Linked DNA regions of Homo sapiens: region 2 is linked to region 1. Evidence: fine-mapped QTL for protein levels in blood plasma. A gene starts in region 1. The other region holds a variant in brackets. All regions are shown on one strand. Distances are from middle to middle. Region 1 holds the start of VASH1 (vasohibin 1). Region 2 overlaps LOC105370577 (a long non-coding RNA gene).

What was found. PIP is the posterior inclusion probability: the model's chance that the variant is causal. The UK Biobank Pharma Proteomics Project read protein levels with antibody pairs (Olink). The fine-mapping took linkage between variants from a reference panel, not from the people measured, so its PIPs are less certain.
Region 2: its variant is fine-mapped to the plasma level of the VASH1 protein (UK Biobank, PIP above 0.99).

The regions. Positions count from the first base shown.
Region 1 is chr14:76,756,572-76,766,461 of GRCh38, forward strand. VASH1 (vasohibin 1) reads left to right here and starts at 4,897. Exons shown (of 7, transcript NM_014909.5): 1 at 4,897-6,559. The coding sequence starts at 6,251. RefSeq lists silencers at 4,864-5,053, 5,154-5,423.
Region 2 is chr14:76,710,544-76,720,433 of GRCh38, forward strand. LOC105370577 (a long non-coding RNA gene) reads right to left here. Exons shown (of 2, transcript XR_007064273.1): 2 at 1-272. Among named protein-coding and RNA genes, the nearest start is that of VASH1, 46 kb to the right of the region's middle. The variant T/G (reference allele first, on the strand shown) is at 4,546.

The DNA.
Region 1 (9,890 bases):
TGTTTGGATTAAGGAAAAACAGACTTGTTCTCTAAGAATTTAGCAGTCAATTCAGACAGATGCCAAATCCATGAAAAACTCTCTGATTTTGTCACGCAAACCCCAGAGCGGAAGTCAGACCCAGGCAGATTCAGGTTTTCAGGTGACCTGAAGCAAATCGTTTCACTGGCCAGTCTAGATCTCAGTGGTTCCAAGCCCAGCTACCATTCGCATTACCTGGAGATCTTTTCTAGACTATGGGTACCAAGCCCCACTCCAAACCAGTTTCATCAGGATTTCTGCAGGGTGCAGACTGAGGATCAAGAATTTTAAGAGCCCCTGGGGTGATCCTAATGTAAGCTCCACTGGACCAGAAGTGCTCCAAGATCCTCGCCAGGTATCCCTGGTGCCTACAACCATGTATGATTCAGAGTAGATATTTAGTATATGTTTATTGAGTAAATGAATGAAGATTCTGACTCAACTTTTTGCTGTTTTCATGTTCATAATTTATGAGGTAAAAGAAGAAAAGAAAAGGAGTTTAATCCCAAGAAAGAATCACAGAGCAGAGCTGTCCAATAGAAATTTCTGCAATGGGCCAGGCGCAGTGGCTCACGCCTGTAATCCCAGCACTTTGGGAGGTTGAGGGGGGTGAATCACGAGGTCAGGAGTTCAAGACCAGCCTGGCCAATATGGTAAAATCCTGTCTGTACTAAAAATTACAAAAAATTAGCTGGGCACAGTGGCAAGCGCCTGTAATCCCAGCTACTGGGGAGGCTGAGGCAGGAGAATTGCTTGAACTCAAGCGGCAGGGGTTGCAGTGAGCCGAGATTGCATCACTGCACCACAGCCTAGGCGACAGGGTGAGACTCCATCTCAAAAAAAAAAAAAAAGAAAAGAAAAAGAAAAGAAATTTCTGCAGTGATGGACATGTTCTATAATCTGTACTATTCATTACAGTATCTATGAGCCATAATGGCTACTGAGTACTTGAAATATGGCTAGCGTGATTGGAGAAACTGAACTTTTAATTCTATTTAATGTTAATTAAATTCAAATTTAAATAGACACATATGACTTCTGGCTACCATACTGAACTTCTGGCTACCATTGCAGAAATTTCTTTTCTTTTTTTTTTTGAGATGGAGTCTCACCCTATCACCTAGGCTGTGGTGCAGTGATGCAATCTCGGCTCACTGCAACCCCTGCCACTTGAGTTCAAGCAATTCTCCTGCCTCAGCCTCCCCAGTAGCTGGGATTACAGGTGCTTGCCACTGCGCCCAGCTATTTTTTTGTAGTTTTTAGTACAGACAGGATTTTGCCATATTGGCCAGGCTGGTCTTGAACTCCTGACCTCGTGATTCACCCCCCTCAGCCTCCCAAAGTGCTGGGATTACAGGCATGAGCCACTGCGCCTGGCCCATTGCAGAAATTTCTATTGGACAGTTCTGCTCTGTGATTCTTTCTTGGGATTAAACTCCTTTTCTTTTCTTCTTTTACCTCATAAATTATGAACATGAAAACAGCAAAAAGTTGAGTCAGAACATCTACCTTTTATAAACACATCTATACCTGTGTGCCTCCATGCCCCTCTTTTACTAACAGCACCCCATTTACCTTTAGGGCAGTCCTTCTCCCCCAACCACCTGTAGTCTTGGCTAATGAAATTGCCCCATCCTCCTCTAGCCAAGGATCCAAGCTAAGTCAACAGACTCTTCTCTCTGGAAATTTCACTCTAGCTTCTGTGTCACAAGAATAGAAAATGTGTCAGAGCAGATTAATATGAGTGTTGATGCCCTAAGACAACATGCGTTCATTTGCAGACCATTAGTCCAGAGTGTGACGATAACAAATGTGACACATGATATGAGTTAGGCGTCATTATCGTCATCCTTGTCATCATGAAAGTGACTTGTACCCAGCAGCTCAGATGTGCCTGCTCCTGTACTAGGTATGTAATTTGCCTAGCTTCTCTTATGCATCCTTTCTTCATCTGTAAAATGGAAATCATACTCATCCTAACTCTTCCACGGTTTTTGTGAAGACAGCAAAAGGAATAATTGTCATGAGGGCCGGGCGCGGTGGCTCACGCCTGTAAGCCCAGCAATTTGGGAGGCCGAAGCAGACAGATCACTTGAGGTCAGGAGTTGGAGACCAGCCTGGCCAACATGGTGAAACCCCATCTCTACTAAAAATACAAAAATTAGACAGACATGGTGGCAGGCACCTATAATTCCAGCTACTCAGGAAACTGAGGCAGAGAATCACTTGAACCTGGGAGGCAGAGGCTGCAGTGAGCAGAGATCGAGCCACTGCACTCCAGCCTGGGTGACAGACCGAGACTCTGTCTCAGGGGAAAAAAAAAAAAAAGAAAAAAAAGAAAAATAACGGTCACGAAAGCTTTGAGCCAAATAAGGAGTTACCCAAGTGTCTGTTGGAGGAGTTGTTCCCAAGGCATAGGTGTGGGGAGTCATGGGAGGGCTTGATGAAGGACCCAGGATCTGAGACCAATTCAAAAGTTGTGCCATACCAGGTTAAGTCACTTGTTCTCTCTGGGCTTTTGGCTTAGATAAGACTGGGTTATACACATCTCTTTCCAGTTTCACCATTTTCTAATCTATTTGCAAGCCCCCTTGCCTGACACATACCCTCTTCCACTTCTATGCACACATGCCAGAAAATTCTCTAGCCTAGTCCATGCTGACCTTGTACCCAACTCATTTCTTCTTTTCCCAGCTCCTCACCTGATTGGGAAGTTGCTCTGGGTATGCACTCCCACAGCTTCCTGAATAACCCTCTGGCAGAGCACCTTATGGAAATCATGCTTAACTATCTCCTCCACTAGTAGGCCATAAGTCCAACTAGAGCAAAGGCCATGTCCCTCTTGTTCACTACTGCTTCTCCAGTGCCCAGTACAGAGTCAAACACATAGAAGATGTTCTATGAGTACTTACTCTTTGAATGAATACCCTACATCTATTTTATTTGTCATTTCAGAAAACACATGGTATTATCTCATGCTGCGTAACAAGTTAGTCCAAAACTTAGCAGCTTAAAACGAGAATAGTCACTTATCCTCTCTCAATTTCTGTGGGACAGAAAGTCAGACAGGGCACAGCAGGGCTGGTTGTTCTCTGCTCCATGTCTGGGACCTCAACTCTAAGACTTAAAGGCCGAGGGCTGGCAAGACCTGAAGTCTCGGTTTGCCATGATCTGGTGATTGACTCTGGCTGTTGGCTGAGAGCCCAGCAGCAGCTGTCAGCGAGAACACCCTCATGTGGCCTCACCATGTGGCTTGGGCTTCTTCACAACATGGTAGCTGGTTTCTTCTGAGGAACCAAGAAGAAGCTGTCTCCTTTTTATGGCCTGGTCTTAAGAGTCATACAGCTTCACTTTCATCACACTTTATTCATTAGACACCAGTCACCAAGTACATCCCACATTCAGGGGGAAAGGAATTAGATCCCATCTTTTGAAAAGAATGGTCAAGAGCTTGCAAGCCAATTTTAAAACCAGCACCACTTGGCTAACACAAGAAGCAATGTATAGAGTGAAAAACAAGTGTCTGAAGAAGTAAGACTTCTGTTCACATTCTAGCTCTGCCACTTACTAGCTGTGTGAGTTTGGGGAAATTACCCTCTGAGACTTGGTTTATACAATACAGGGTGATAGTTGTTGATCCCTAGTGATTTTTCTACGCTTGGAGTCTTCTTGCCTTAGTGAGTTTAAGAAGATCCAGGCTGAACTAACTTTCTTGGAGTCTTGCAATCCTTCCCATCACTGATAACCCTTGGTTTCTGACCCTGGAGGTAGTAAGAGGTTGCTACGGGAGCACAGGGTACCCAGAAAGTTCAGATACTAGGGACAGCTTTAGAGAACAGATGTGAAACCACTGAGGCCCTGGGGTCTCTCTAAGGCCTTTAACCCAGCCCTTGTGTAGTAACCTCAGCTTGTCAAGAAATGCAACGACCCCACAACTAAGGAATCTGAATCTGCCGGCTAAGGCCAAGGAATCTGCATTCTCCCACAAGACTGTGATTCATGCTAACTACAGGCAGGGGAGAGGGGGAGCATCTTAAAGCACACACTCGGCCGTCTCTTCCTAAAGTTCTTGGCTTCAGCCTAGAGATAGTGCCTTTCCCACCATTTACAACTCTATGGCATGAGGGAGGCGGAGGGTGCGTCCAGTGTCCAACCACGCACCACAGCTGGTTGTACTTTCACCTTCCTCTAGGCCAGCGGACCCTCCCCAAGCATTGCCTCCCACGCCCACGTCGCGGTCCCACCCTGGTCCGCGGGGTCCAGAGCGTCCAAAGCCCGGTCTAGGCAGATGGTCTAGGGGTGAGCTCTGCGCACCCCATTCCCACCAGTGCAGGCAATCGAATAAAACAGGGTGACTTTTAACCCTTTTCGTTTCCAGAGATAGTGACCCCCCGTCTCAATCCCTAGATGTCCTCCTCTAAGAACTGTGCGCGCTGGGAGGGACTCTGCGCTCACTCACTGTGACCACCTCGGCTGGGATATGGGGAAACTGAGGCCTACAGAGGGAAGGGAACTGCTGAACGTCCCAAAGCAACACAGGCACTGAATCCGGTCTAGAATCCCAGTCTTCCAGGCCAGTGCTCTCGGTCCTACCGGCTCAGGGCCCCTGCGAAGAATCTTTTTCAAGAAATTCCCGACCGCAGGAATTCCTTCTGCGCTAGGAATCTCCATGGAGTTTGCGCTCCCTCTGGCACGTTGAAAACGTCCTCCGCAGCTTCGCACCGGCTTCGCGGCGCCCTGACAGCTGGGTGAGGAGGGAGCGAATGCCCACCGGCGTCCTTGGGGTAACTTGGGACAGAGGCACCGCCGCGGGGGGCGGAGGACTGGGCGCGAAGGCGCTGGCCCTTTAAGGGGGGGACGGAGCGCATGCGCGGCGCGGGCCGTAGTCGAGCCTGGTGGGCGGCTGGCTGGCAGGGGACGTGGTCGGCGGCAGCGGGGCCCAGGGGCGGCGGGGCTGCAGCAGCGGCGGCCCCAGCTTCGCCGAGCAGCGATCGGCTGGTGGGCTTCTCGTTGGCGGGCTCCGCGTTGGCGGGCTGCTCCCCAGGCACCAGCGCAGCGCGCGCTCGCCCGGCTTCGTCACTCGCCTCCAGCTACATCCGCCGGCCGAGGCTGCGCGAGCCTCCGGGCTTGCGGTCCCCGCCCCGCGGTCCTTCCTCCACCCTCAGCCAGGGCAGCTGCAGCCCGAGCGAACAGCCACGGAGCATCCTCCGCCCGCCCGGGCCGCGCCACCGCCCATGCTGCAGCCAGTCCCAGGCAGCGACCCCGCGGCCGCAGCCCGCCGCTCAGTGACCTCAGCCTGGCCCCTGCGCGCCGCCCGAGCCGGTCCCGCTGAGCCGCGGGCCCCGTGCCCTGCGATGGCTCGGCTGGTGCAGCGCGGCGCCAGGTGCCAGCCGTCCTCCCGCTGAGACGCGCCCGAGTGGGGACCCGCTGGGCCTCGGGGCTCGCAGCCTTCGCCTCCCCGCCGCGCCCGCTCCCTTTCTGGGGACTCCGCCGCTGTTTCTGGGGACGAGGGGACAGGGGACCCAGACAAAGCCCACTTTGTGCAGGGAGTTGGCCGCAGGCGGGGAATGTGCGCGTCGGCGCGCGCCCCCTCCCCGCTCCCGGCCAGCTGCGAGTCTTGGCTCCCGGACTTGTCTCGTCGCGTCGGAGAAATCGCCCCCCAGCGCCGCTCTCCCGCCCGGGGGTCTTGGTTCCGAGCTCGCGCGGCCGGGAGTCGCCTCGGTCTTCCTTGGGGCGCGCGCAGATGTGAGCGTGCGAGAGTTGTGTAGGGGATTTTGTTCCCTCCGAAACTGAGACCCAGGGCGCCCAGTGGGCACCCGTGCCTTGACTCTGTCCTTTCTGCAGCCGCTGGTCCGAGCTGTCTGGCCTCAGTTTCCCTCCGACTTTTCTCCGCTCTGCCAGCCCTCACTGCTGCCCGTCATTGTTCTCGCAGTTAGATGGGGGTGCTTTGTGACGGCTGCCAAGTTGGGGTGTGTTCTCTTTATTCCGTTTTTCAAACAGAACAAGGCCTCCAAGGCTGACCCCAGACAACCCACCCCCTCGGACCCTAATTCACCTTATTGCACTGATTTTTTTTATCAAGTCGTATTTTATTGTACAGGAGCCACGCCCTGATTTCTTAAAGGCGCCTTGCACTCTGGCCATGTGTTATCTCTGCAGCCGGTGTGTGGGAGGCCTCTTGTGAGCCAGTTGTTTTCCCGCCTCCACCACCCCCCTCGAAGATTTAGGGATGCCAGGGGGGAAGAAGGTGGCTGGGGGTGGCAGCAGCGGTGCCACTCCAACGTCCGCTGCGGCCACCGCCCCCTCTGGGGTCAGGCGTTTGGAGACCAGCGAAGGAACCTCAGCCCAGAGAGATGAGGAGCCAGAAGAGGAAGGGGAAGAGGACCTGCGAGACGGAGGCGTCCCCTTCTTTGTCAACCGGGGTGGGCTACCTGTGGATGAGGCCACCTGGGAAAGGATGTGGAAACACGTGGCCAAGATCCACCCCGATGGAGAGAAGGTGGCGCAACGGATCCGTGGGGCCACAGACCTGCCCAAGGTGAGACACACGGGTCAGGGGGGTGATAGCACAGTCTAGGTTTTAGTGACCTTGGGGCCAAGAGTGAAGCCACACTCTCCTCCCACGGGGCAGGGGACCACTGGCTCGGTAAGATCTTTAAAATGCAGTGATATCATACCTGTCTAGGAGAACTTTCTCTCACTGCCATTCTAGGAGGGAGGCTCACATACATTGTCTCCAGGAGGCCCTCCCCGCTGTCTTTTAAAATGTCCACGTTTTACAGGAGGGGACAGCAGCAGATGGAACTAACAAACACAGTAGGATGGCTTGACGTCTCATTTGCTTGATGACACTTGCCAAGCCAGAGAACTGTGAGCAGACAAATGTAATGAATGACTAAGGAGATGCAGGGCTTCATATGTTGAGAAAATATTTTCGTGCATTATGTCATTGAATTCTCCCAACAGCCTTGTGACGTAAGTACAGTTTGGATTCCCATTTTACAGATGAGAAAGCTGAAAACTCAAGTAGGAACTCAAGATCCCACAGCCAGTAAGTGGCAGAACTGAGATTCAATTTCAGGTCTTCAGGAGAAGGGCGGGGGGTGGTGGTGGAGGGAAGTGTCCAGGTCCTCTTCTCTGTTGGACAGTAGATTCAAGCACATTAGAAGAGGTCTTATGGAGAAGCATAAAATGAAATAATTTTTCTGTGTTGGCTGTAACTCCTCCTCCATGACAGCTATACTTCAGTTGTGTCACCAACGAAAACAGAGGCTGTATCTCATTCATCTTTGTCTTCCCAAGGCCTCCTGTGTGCCTGGCACAGAACAGGCACTAGTGTGTGTGTTTGCTGAATGAAAGGGTATTTGAGAGTTTCTGTGCTGTACGCTGCTATATGGAAATACATGCCAGATATTAAAAAAAAAAAAAACATGATCAAGACTAGGAGGCACTTTGCCAAATGCAGAGGCCTGAAATCTCCAAAAAAGAGCCCTTTGGACTGAGTTCAGAGCCCAGTGCTTAGCCCTGCCTGCCCAGGTTGGAAGGAAGGGGGCTAGGAAGAATGGAAGTTAGTGTGAATTAGACATGAGGACAAGTGGCCCGTTTTGTTTTTACCAAGTTATTGGTACAGCCATCAGAAAGTGTCTTCTGGGAAAAAGAGAATCAAAGGTTGAAGGTTTAAATACTGCCTAATGTTTCCAGGGGAAACAAAATGTAGATTGATTTGGAATGGCCGCATAAATGTGCTCTGCACTGACTTAATATTTATTTAGCTAATCCCCTAGAGTTGGATGTTGTTTCCAGTTTTATTCCTAAAATGAATACTATGGTGAACATTCTAAAATATAAATTTTGGGGTTCATCTCTGATTATTTCCTTGGGAAAAATTCTGAAAGCGAAAGTATTGCGTCAAAGGATATTGACATTGGTAGGGGTCACCTGCTTATCTATATGGCCTCTTCCACCTATTTGAGATGCAGTTTTCTTATCAATAAGATGAGGTTGATTGTGGGGAAGAAATGAGAGACTGTGTGTTAAAGTATTTAACAAACTGTAAAGCCCCAAACCAGTACCTGGTTATTGGATATCAGTTACCTTTTTTTTTTTTTTTTGAGATGGAGTCTCACTCTTTCCACCAGGCTGGAGTGCAGTGGCATGATCTTGGCTCACTGCAGCCTCCACCTCCCTGGTTCAAGTGATTCTCCTGCCTCAGCCTCCTGAGTATCTGGGATTGTAGGCACCTACCACCACACCTGGCTAATTTTTGTATTTTTGGTAGAGATGGGGTTTCATTTTCAACATTTTGGCCAGGCTGGTCTCAAACTCCAGACCTCAGGTAATCCACCCACCTCAGCCTCCCAAAGTGCTGGGATTACAGGCGTGAACCACCACGCCCGGCCAGACATCCATCACCTTTACTTATGTGCTTTATCAAGCGGCAAGACTGGGTTTTGCTCAGATCATTTGTCCCGATGAGGCCAGAGTCACACCCTGCTCCCACGTGAACAAGTCGGGCAGCTCTCCAGCCATCTTGCTTATGTCTAAATCAGGCCATAAAAGAGTGTGAATGGTTCCCTGCAGAACTGCCACCACTCCTGGGAACTAAAAAAGAAATAGTGAGCTCACTAGTAACTGGTCTGTAATGTCATTCTGTCATCTTCAGTCCTCATGTACAGGAAAGACACGGATGAAGGAAGTCTAGGGGTGGGGGCTGTGTTGTGACAGACCCCTAGACTTCCATCGCTAGGGTAGAAGGAATTTTGTGAGAGGTTTGGAAAAATTTGAACCTCCCCCTCTTCAAACCACAGATCTCAGATAAATCGCATGAGTCTGCATGAGGTCCCTCCTCTACCTGGGCTCTGAGTAGAAAGGTACCCTTAGAGTCTGGGAGTGCAGTGGAGTCCAGGAGGCCTTGGAGAGAAGCAGCGTGGGTTGGGTGCCTGGGTGCCAGGGTGCCAGTGGCAGGGTGGGCTGACCCCGCCCTTACCATCCCTAGGGGCCATGCCACTGGAGCTGGCACAGGGTCATTCCCTACAGCGGCCACACAGTGTGGGGCTCAAGAAGTGTTTTGTTGGGAAAATTGGGAGATTTCTCACATAAAGATCCAGAGTTTTGGCATCTTTTCAGAAAATAAGAAGACTTGGGAACACATGGGAATCTGCAGTCCCACGTGGCAGCTGTCAGCTGGGGCTGGGGAGTGAGTCCTACTCCCCCATCTTGCCACTGTCTCCACCACTCACCTACCAGGCCTGCCTGCCCCGTGTATGTTACTTGCCCGGCCCCTGCATGTGGTTGAGTCTGGGACCCCTGCAGGCTGGTGTCATAAAAGGAGAGCACTCTGGAGTCAAAGCTACCATGTTCAAATCCTTGATCTCCCATAACTACTTATATGAGGAAGACAGGCAACTTTCTTGTGCCTCAGTTTTCCGCAGCTGTGAAATGGAGCTAATAGCAATGCCCATCAAGAGGATGTTAGAGGAATTAATGATGCAAAGCATGTGATGCTTCATTAAGTGCCTCTAATAGATACCCAGTAATGGAGCAGGGAGTGAGTGTTCATCGACACCCCACTAGCGCTTTGGAGAAGCAGCCTTTACAGGGATGATGCCAGTATGTTATAGGGCAACAATTTCTAGAAAGATCCCAAATCCAGCAACAGCTTAGGCTCCTTGATAAGAGTCTGTCCTTGATGTTTCAGGCTTCCACCCCCTTTAAAAGCTTAGTGGCCACTGACCCCAGACCCAGCTGCTGAAGGTCTTTTATGGTCTCTTATGGCTCAGGCCACAGAGCTCCTGCAGAATGGGAATTTGGACATCTCCTCTAGCTACTTATTATGACTCCAGAGTGCTTTCCTTTGATTTATTTATGAG
Region 2 (9,890 bases), 46 kb before region 1:
CCTCTAAACAAAAGCCACCCAAAAACCTCCTTAAAAAGAGACATAATATAGGTGTGTTCCGTTTCTGAAAAATGCAAACAGCGCTGTTATGATTTTTTACACCTTTCTGCATGTACGTAATGCTGACAGAGAGATGAACTCTTCCATAAACATGGTTGGATGTTTACCTCGTTTCTGTCTTCTTTGTGAGCTTGGCGAGTGCTGGGGCTAGTCAGTAACTTGAAGTCCAAGATCCCTAATTCAGCTCTGTGCTCTCACAGCCTTACCAAAGCCTGGTAAAAGGACAAATGAGACATCCGAGTTGGTTGTAAGGAAGTAAAGTGGAGTCCCTACAACCAGCTGGGTGACTTTAGCCAAGGGACTTGCTTCTTGGGACCTTGATTTCAAAAAAAGGGGACGTTGGATTCACTCTATCATCTAAATCTGTAAGTGCAAAAAGTAATACAAGAGAAGTGTCCTGTAGAGCACGAGGAATGTTGCAGGACATGGGTTCTCAAAGTGTGGTCGGACCCCTAAGCGTACCCTCTCCCTTCTCCGATTATGTATCTATTCAAGGACAGGTTTTTTTCATAGACTTCAGTTAAAACAACATGTCAGCGAGGCGTGGTGGCTCACACCTGTAATCCCAGCAGTTTGGGAGGCTGAGGTGGGAGGATCACCTGAGATCAGGAGTTCGAGACTAGCCTGACCAATACAGTGAAACCTTGTCTCTACTAAAAATACAAAAAGTAGCTGGGCTTGGTGGCAGGCGCCTGTAATCCCAGCTACTCAGGAGGCTGAGGCAGGAGAATCGCTTGAATCCGGGGGGCAGAGGTTGCAGTGAGCCGAGATTGCGCCATCGCACTCTAGCCTGGGTGACAAAGCAAGACTCCATCTCAAAAAAAAAAAAATCACAAGAGATGGAATGAAGGAGATATGAGAATCTGTAGACCAAACATTTAAAAGATTTGCAAAAATATAAAACAACACCACTCTGCAAATGTCTTTGTTTTAGAAAATATAGCTATTGTTGGTAAAAATGTGTAATTTATGTTAACATGCAATGGATTTTTACAGTTATTGTTACATGTATTAATAAATATTTGAATTTTCCCAGCTATAATTTCTAATATAGCAAGGCAAATATAAAAATGTCTCACATGAACAAAAGCTCTTGGAGGCTGTCAATCATTTTTAAGAGCATAAAGGGGTCCTGAGACCAAAAATTTGAGACCTGCTGTTGTAAGTTTCATCAGTCCCTTTCTTAGCTCTGTTATTTATCTTTTCATTCTTCAGAAGCAGAGAATTGTATATCCAAAGATGTTAATTTCAGCATTATCTACAATAGCAAAGAAAAAAGAGACTAAAAGACAATGTCTAACACCAGAGGAAAGGTTCAACCATAATAAATATGCTCCATTGACCCAATAGAATTAGATATTATAGTATTATAAGAAAATGATTAGGGGCCGGGCACGGTGGCTCATGCTTGTAATCTCAGCACTTTGGGAGGCCAAGGTGGGTGAATCACTTGAGGTCGGGAATTCGAGACCAGCCTGACCAACGTGGAGAAACCCCATCTCCACTAAAAATACAAAAAAATTAGCCGGGCGTGGTGGCCCATGCTTGTAATCCCAGCTACTCGGGAGGCTGAGGCAAGAGAATCACTTGAACCCAGGAGGCTGAACAGAAAAGGACAATGGCCTCTTTGTCCCTAGTGTAAGAGAGCTGGGGGGAGCCCTAGGAACCCACCAATGGTAAATTTAAAATGCTGCCTTAAAGGTATTGAACAAGTCCGGGTGTGATGGCTCATGCCTGTAATCCCAGCACTTTGGGAGCCCGAGGCGGGAGGATCACTTTAGCCCAGGAGTTCAAGATCAGCCTGGGCAACATGGTGAGACCCCATCTCTACAAAAAATATAAAAAGTAGCCAGGCGTGGTGGTGCAGGTTGCGGTGAGCCGAGATCAAGCCATTGCACTCCAGCCTGGGCAACGAAAGCGAAACTCTGCCTCAAAAAAAAAAGAAAAGAAAAGAAAAGAAAATGATTATATGGCATAATGTTAAGTGAAAAGACATAAATTGGCACTACCCCAATTGTAAAATGTGAGATTGGAACCTAATATATAAAAATGGAAACATTAATCAGTTACTATACTGTATTTCAATGTCACAATTATGGGTAGTGTTTTTCTTTAAACTAGTGGCTATTATTATTTTGTTATCTTTTTTTTTTAATTTTATTTTCTCTTTTTTTTTTTTTTTTTGAGACAGGGTGTCTCTCTGTCACCCAGGCTGGAGTACACTGGTGCAATCACCAGCTCACTGCAGCTTCAACCTCCTAGTCTCAAGTGATCCTCCCACCTCAGCCTCCTGAGTAGCTGGGATTACGGTGTGCACCACCACACCTGGCTACTTTTTATATTTTTTGTAGAGATGGGGTCTCACCATGTTGCCCAGGCTGATCTTGAACTCCTGGGCTAAAGTGATCCTCCCGCCTCGGGCTCCCAAAGTGCTGGGATTACAGGCATGAGCCATCACACCCAGACTTGTTCAATACCTTTAAGGCAGCATTTTAAAGTTACCATTGGTGGGTTCCTAGGGCTCCCCACAGCTGTCTTACACTAGGGACAAAGAGGCCATTGTCCTTTTCCGTTTAGCAAGCCGAAAAGGTTCCCAATTTTGAAAAGCTACCTTCCTCCAGCATACCCCCACAAAAGTCATTGTCCTGAAGACCTCTGGGAACATGACAAATGGCAGATCTGTGCAAATATACAACCGCCCTAACCGAGGCCACAGCCACCCGGCCCACTTAGGAGAGCTGGCATTGAATGGGAAGTGGCCGGCGCTTTCAGCCTGGCCAGCGGGCTGACAAGGGGTCTTTGTAATGGGAACAAAACTGCATCCCCCTTCACCTGGAGATTCTCCAGCACCCCCTCCTCTCCTGCACTGCCCCCCAGCACACATCCGTGCACACACGCACACAGAGGGGGGTTTATGTTTGCTTCGTAGGTGTGTTAATAAAAATCTCCTTAGGGTCACCGCTTCTGAGGTTTTGAAGTGAAACACTGCCCAAAAGGAGGGTTCATCTTCAAGGCAGCCTCACCTTCACCCCATTAAGTAGCTCCTGCTCACATCTTTCCTGAAACCACTTAAGGTAATTCCCTGTCTTAACGCTGAAGGTGCTTATGGTTCTATTTCAGACTCCTGGTGTGGGCAGTACAGGGTGAAAGAAATGCCCCGGATAATTAAGGAGATTATTTTATTCAGGCTATTAGGGAGAACTTTCATGAATACAGAGAAAGTTCTCAGCAAAAAGGAAGTGGGGGAAGCTGGGGTGGTACAGAGGCAAGGCTCTGGGGGAAGAATGGACACGGCTTATTTGAAGCATGCGATGGGAATCTACAGAATATGCAAGGGCAGGGGAGTCCTTTGCAATTTCTACCTCCCTTTGGAGCACCAAATAAAGTCCAATATGGGCAACAGAAGACCAGAAAGCTGGCCTCCCCTGTAGCTGAGGAAGGAGGAAATGAGTAGTGAGAATGATGTCCCAGATGCCTCCAGGGGAGGCGGTTCTGGGGACTGGGGTAAGTAGGGGCTGTGGGGAGAGAAAGAGGGTGTGGGAGGAGGAAACACATCTCCAGGTGCTCTTTGGCAGCTGAAATTTCATTCCTCAAATTCAGAAATCATCAGGCCAGGCATGGTGGCTCACGCCTGTAATCCCAGCACTTTGGGAGGCTGAGGTGGGTGGATCACCTGAGGTCAGAAGTTCAAGACCAGCCTGGCCAACATGGTGAAACTCCGTCTCTACTAATAATACAAAAATTAGCCAGGCGTGGTGGTGCACACCTGTAATTCCAGCTACTTGGGAGGCTGAGGCAGGAGAATCGCTTGAACCCGGGAGGCAGAGGTTCCAGTGAGCCAAGATCACGCCATTGCACTCCAGCCTGGGCAACAAGAGTGAAACTCAAAAAAAAAAAAAAATTTTTTTCAGAAATTATCTCCTCCCATCCTGTCCTTCTCCCTCCGTCTTCCTCAAATGGCAGGAGGGTGAGGCTATGATTGAAAGAAAACCACTCAATTCCTTGTATCCCCCCAAACACATGTACACACATGCAGCTCTGTTCCAACCTCCTGGAAGGAAACTGGCTGTCACCAAAGGATTCCAGCCAAATACTTGGGGTTCCTCAAGGATATCTTTTGAAAACAACAACAACAAAAATGTAGATTTTTTTTTTTTTTTTTTTGAGACAGTCTCGCTCTTGTTGCCCAGGCTGGAGTGCAATGGCACGATCTTGGCTACTGCAACCTCCACTTCCCGGGTTCAAGCGATTCTCCTGCCTCAGCCTCCTGAGTAGCTGGGATTACAGGCGCCTGCCACCATGACCAGCTAATTTTTGGACTTTTAGTAGAGATGGGGTTGCACCATGTTGGCCAGGTTGGTCTCAAACTCCTGACCTCAGGTGATCCGTCCGCCTCGACCTCCCAAAGTGCTGGGATTACAGGCGTGAGCCATCGTGCCCAGCCAAATGTAGATGGTTGAACAGCTCCAGTCACAATGTAAAGTT[T/G]TAATTTTCCTCTGCAATAAAAGCAGCCTTTTTCTTAATGTTTTCTTTGATAGAGGGAAGCCCCCACCACCACTCCCGGCTTCTTTGCCCCAGCCCTCCTCTTTATCTAACCCAGCCAGATGTGTGCATTTTTTTTTTCCATTCACATGGCACAGGGTTTGAAGATGAGCTGTATCCCCCATTAGCCACTCTTTCCACCCCCGGAGAGACTCTGATTGTGGAGGATTCGTGCTGCTGACTGTAGATAAAACAATCGAGATGGGGGGCTGCTTTGGAAACGGGGGGGGGTGTGGGGATTTTTCCATCTGGAATCACAAGGCTTTTGGTGGTAGGCCCAGATGGAACCACGATCTGTCTGTGGAGACAAAGCTTCTTTTGGAACTGGTCATGGCCACAGGAATATGAGGTTTTTGACAATACGGTGGCCAAGAGATAGGAAACTGAAGTGGGTTATGAAATGCCAAGGACAGATCACTCTGACTCTGGTGAAGTAAGCCCATTAGTAAGCTGAACTCATGTAATTCATCAAGGAGCTTCCTTGAGCCGGTGAAAACAAGGATTGTAGAACTGTGAGTTCAGACCTGGACGTTAGAAAAACAACTCCCAAGTCAGCCAGTCTCCACCCTCTTAGCTTAAGTCATCTTTCGGCTGGGAGCAAACATGCTTCCTTACCACACCAGAACAATGCTAGGTCTTCAATTATTGTAAAGAATTTTACAAATGCTGAGTGTCCCTGTCGACACTATTAATGAACATCCTCTAAGCTGCACTTAAGCCAAATCCCAAGGGATAATTAGGGATACGGAACAATGATACAATGTAGATTGCCAGTTTGCTTGAAGCTCCCAACATCCAATTAGAGGGTGGTAGCGATTTCCCAGAGCACAGGAGATGAAAACCATCTGTCACAGCCTGCTTCCTAAATCCTCCCTTCCAGGAGCTCTTTCTGTCACCTAATAATGCCAAAAAGGAGCACCTTCTCGGCCCTGAAAGCCCATCTTCCGACCAGACATGAGTTAACAAGCTGCGCGCCCCAGGGCAGACCACATTTCCTCTCTGAGCCTTCATTTTCTCTTCTATAAAATGAACCTGCTGGACATGGGTTGGTGGCTTTCAAACTTTTGAAAGCAGTGGAAACTTTTGTTTTTCTCAAGAGGAAAGCTTGATGATGGAACTCAATTTGGAGTATCTTTATGTCACTGAGAGGAAGTATAATAAACACTCCACTAATCAGACTGCTGGAGGGAGACGGCTCAGCTCTTTTGTGTCTTAAATCTCCAAGCAGACTATCAGTCCCCATGGATTGGATCACTGCCTGCAAGTATTAACTGCTTAATAAATGTCACGTAGGAAAAAATGTGTGCTTCATTGGGAAACTGTGTATCCTTTAGAGCATACCCTTCCAGGTTATCTGAGTGCGATGCTTTAGGGTCTCTGGGCCATTCATTGCCTTTGAGCTATTTTTCAAATCTGTAAATTGTAGATAACTGATAGCAATGTAAATAATTCCTGTTTGCAGGCATGCAAATACATTCTGTCCCGAGGTGGTTCAATTTACTTCCTATTTTCCAAAGGAAAGCCAGTTTCCTTCTATTTGAAATATGTTTCCTTCTATTCGTAAATATATTTCCTTCTATTCGTAAATACACTTCAACATTGCTTTTCTCCATATAAATTTGTGCCTCTTTTGACTTCTCATTTGAACCGGTTGTCACATCTTACCAGCCTTCATTAATGATGCACTAAATACAATTTTAACATGTCCATTTTATGTTTGTAGGAATGTCATGATTTTAGCTTTCTTTGAAAATTGCCTTAGTTAAAAAGTTTATCAATAAAAATGAACATTTTTTTTTTCCGAGTTCTCCCCTGATGTCCAATAGCATTTATACTCACACACAGTTGACTTTAAAAGTATAATGTTATGGAAATGCCTTTAGGAAAGCAACACATGCTCATTGGGAATAAGAAATGAGAGAAAGAGCCACATGGGATACTAGGAGCTAGGCTCCCTTAGGCATAAAAGGGCAAGTCGGGGAGCAGTTACCCCAACTCAAGAGAGAAGCTATTGAGAAGGCTGGTGATAGGAGCTGAGGGCTGAAACAGGCGGAGGCAACCAACCCAGGGCAACCCAGTGTAATCACACCAGACCAATCTGGTTCAACTCTTTTTTTTTTTGAGACAGAGTCTCGCTCTGTTGCCCAGGCTAGAGTGCAGTGGCGCAATCTTGGCTCACTGCAAGCACCGCCTCCCAGGTTCACACCATTCTCCTGCCTCAGCCTCCTGAGTAGCTGGGACTACAGGCACCTGCCACCACACCTGGCTAATTTTTTTTACTTTTAATAGAGACGGGGTTTCACCGTGTTAGCCAGGATGGTCTCGATCTCCTGACTTCGTGATCTGCTCACCTCGGCCTCCCAAAGAGCTGGGATTACAGGCGTGAGCCACCGTGCCCAGCCCTGGTTCAACTTTTATGTAACAAAGTCGTGAGTTGTTTTTTGGTTGCCATGGATCCCCAAGTTGAAAGTCAAGTAACCTGAACATGCCCAGATGAACCAAGTGTGCAACCACAAGTGGAACCTAAGTGCTGGAAGCCGGGAGCAAGGACTGCTTTCAGAGGTGGACTGCACATGGCAGGATCCAGGATCCAATCAGATTGAGCTCTAGTGTCACCCCGTGGCAGGATCCAGTCAGATCATGCCTCCCCAGCATCACCTCATTGCAAGATCCAATCAGATCATGGTTCATTACCCTTCGCCTATAAAACCTGCCCCAGCCCACCAGCTAGGCGACATAGATTTCAGCCTTGCCTCCTGTCTTGCCAGTCAATTCCCAATAAAGGTTTTCAGTGCCATGGTATTGGCTTGTGTGTGCATCAGGCAGTGAGCCCATTGCTTGCTGGGTAATACCAGCAGAAAGAGAACAGAAATGAATATTCCAGCCTCACTCTGCTCCCTGCCTTCATGGGCCAAATCCAGCTGGACCAAGAGGGAAAGGGAGTACACATGTTCATAGGCGTCAGCCTTCTTGGTGGAGGGGACATCACAGTCATTCAAACAGCGAACCAAGACAGCTTGGGATGAGAATCAAACCACTCATAGCTCACTGTCTATATTAACATGACTTTACTATTCCACTGTCCTCATCAAAGTAACTTCACTATTATTCCAGAAAATGCTTGCCCAGGAAGATAAAAGCTGTAAATAACTCTACTGTTCATCCCAGGAACTTCCTGAAGGACACACCATGTCTTCAACAGGAAGCATCAGTTTATAGGTTCAATAGGAAGACAGTTTATACCCCAAGGTTCTTTGAACGCCTCAGCCAGAAATCCTCACTTTGCTGTGTCTACCAATCATGATCTTAGCAACCCCCATCAAGCATGCCACCTCTGCACTGAAAGAGCCACCTTAAACCAGGCCTCAAAGTCTCAATAAAAATCACTTTGCCCTCCCACTTTGGGAAGCTACTGAGGCTTTGTGGAGGGGGTACTCTACCTTACCACGGTGAACAATCAACTCAGCCTTGCCTTCTCCGCAGGTTGCTCTGGTGATATTTAGGAGATGGCATTTGACAGAAGGGAAGCATATTTGGAGATGATTGTGTATGTGAGCCTGAATCATCCAGGCAGGTTTCTTCCCTGCTCCAGTTCAGTGGGACGACTGCATAAATATTCTTTCTTTTTCCTATGTGGATACAAAATATTGAGTTTGGGGGCTGGAAGGAATCCCAGCGATGAACTCATCCCTCCCCTCCTTTATGGATTAGGTCAGTAGAACTTACACAGGGAGGTCAGCCAGGGGGCTGGGATCTGAATTCAAGTCCTGCGGCTCTGAGCCAGGTGGCCTGCATTTATTCATTCTCTTGCTGCCATGTTTCTCTTTTCTTTTCTTTTTTTTTTTTTTTTTTTTTTTTTTTGAGATGGAGTTTCACTCTTGTTGCCCAGGCTGGAGTGCAATGGCATGATCTCCGCTCACTGCAACCTCCACCTCCTGGGTTCAAGTGATTCTCTTGCCTCAGCCTCCTGAGTAGCTGAGATTATAAGCATGTGCCACCACACCCAGCTAATTTTGTATTTTTAGTAGAGACAGGGTTTCTCTATGTTGGTCAAGCTGGTCTCGAACTCCTGACCTCAGGTGATCCACCCGTCTCGGCCTCCCAAAGTGCTGGGATTACAGGCATGAGCCACTGTGCCCAGCTTTTTTTTTTTTTTTTTTGGTTTAACAATTGTTTGCTGTGTACCAGGTATTGTGCCAGGTGACGAGCACTCAGAAGTGGGGCCACGTTTTCGAGATTCTTGCCCCGTTTTTCCTTCCGCCCCTTTAAAGCAGATCCTGGGCTCTGTGCTCCTTTACTGAAGAAAGTGGTGGAAGGAAAGAAAGTCGATAGCAGTCTAAGAACTCCCAGCTTCCAATCCCTAAAGTCTAAACATTTGGGAAGAACAGAGGAGATTACAGGTAAGGACCCAAAATGTAGGAAAGGTTTTTCCTGGGCTGGTGTTGGAGGGGAGAGGATGAGAACAGAGAAGGGATGGGTCTCAGGAGGAGCAACCCAAGAGAGAAGGCCTGCGTGGACAGGACTCGACGGGGCATGGAGGGCTCTGTGACATGAAGCGGCAGAGTGACCCCCATACCTCCCCAGAGCCATGTGGACAAGACTGAGGGCCAGCCCAGGAGTGACCTGTGGAACCAATAACCAGCACCAATGCCCTGGCACCATTACGGTCTCGACATCATTAAGACCCTGAAACTCTAAAACAACCAGTGGAGAGCTGGTGCTGCAGACACTCAAAGAGGCAGACGCACAGAGCCAAGGAGGCTCTTGGATTTCGCCCCAAAACTGGGTCAAGGGGACAGAGTCTCCTCCCTCCCATTCCCGACCAGTGCGCTGGGAGTGGCCACACTAGGCATGGAGCAGCCTGTTTGCCAACACACTCTGGTCATAGGAGAAAAAAGAAAATGCCTCCTGAGTTTGGTTTTAAGGAGCTCCTTAACAAAAGGCAGCCCTGAGCAAAGTGATGCTGGGTGAGGGATGCTGCTTTTGCTTTTAAAATAAGCCACAATCTTCCCAGCAAACAAAGAGTGTCTTCTGAGTAACTCAAAGAATGTTTCTTTTCTCCTGGTACAGGGAGGGCATCTTTCAAATGAAAGTCCGTATCTCCTGTTTTCAGGAAGAAACTAGATTAGAATGCCCTTCTTGCATCTGCTGTTTTTCAAGTGCCTTTAGCTCAAAATAATCCTTATGCCAAAGTGGTATGTTTTGGGGTGGCATATCCTGGCACCTTTCAGCAGGAACAGGGGTGCAGAGAGGGGCCATGTGGAGTAAGCCTGTCCCTGAGGGCCAGG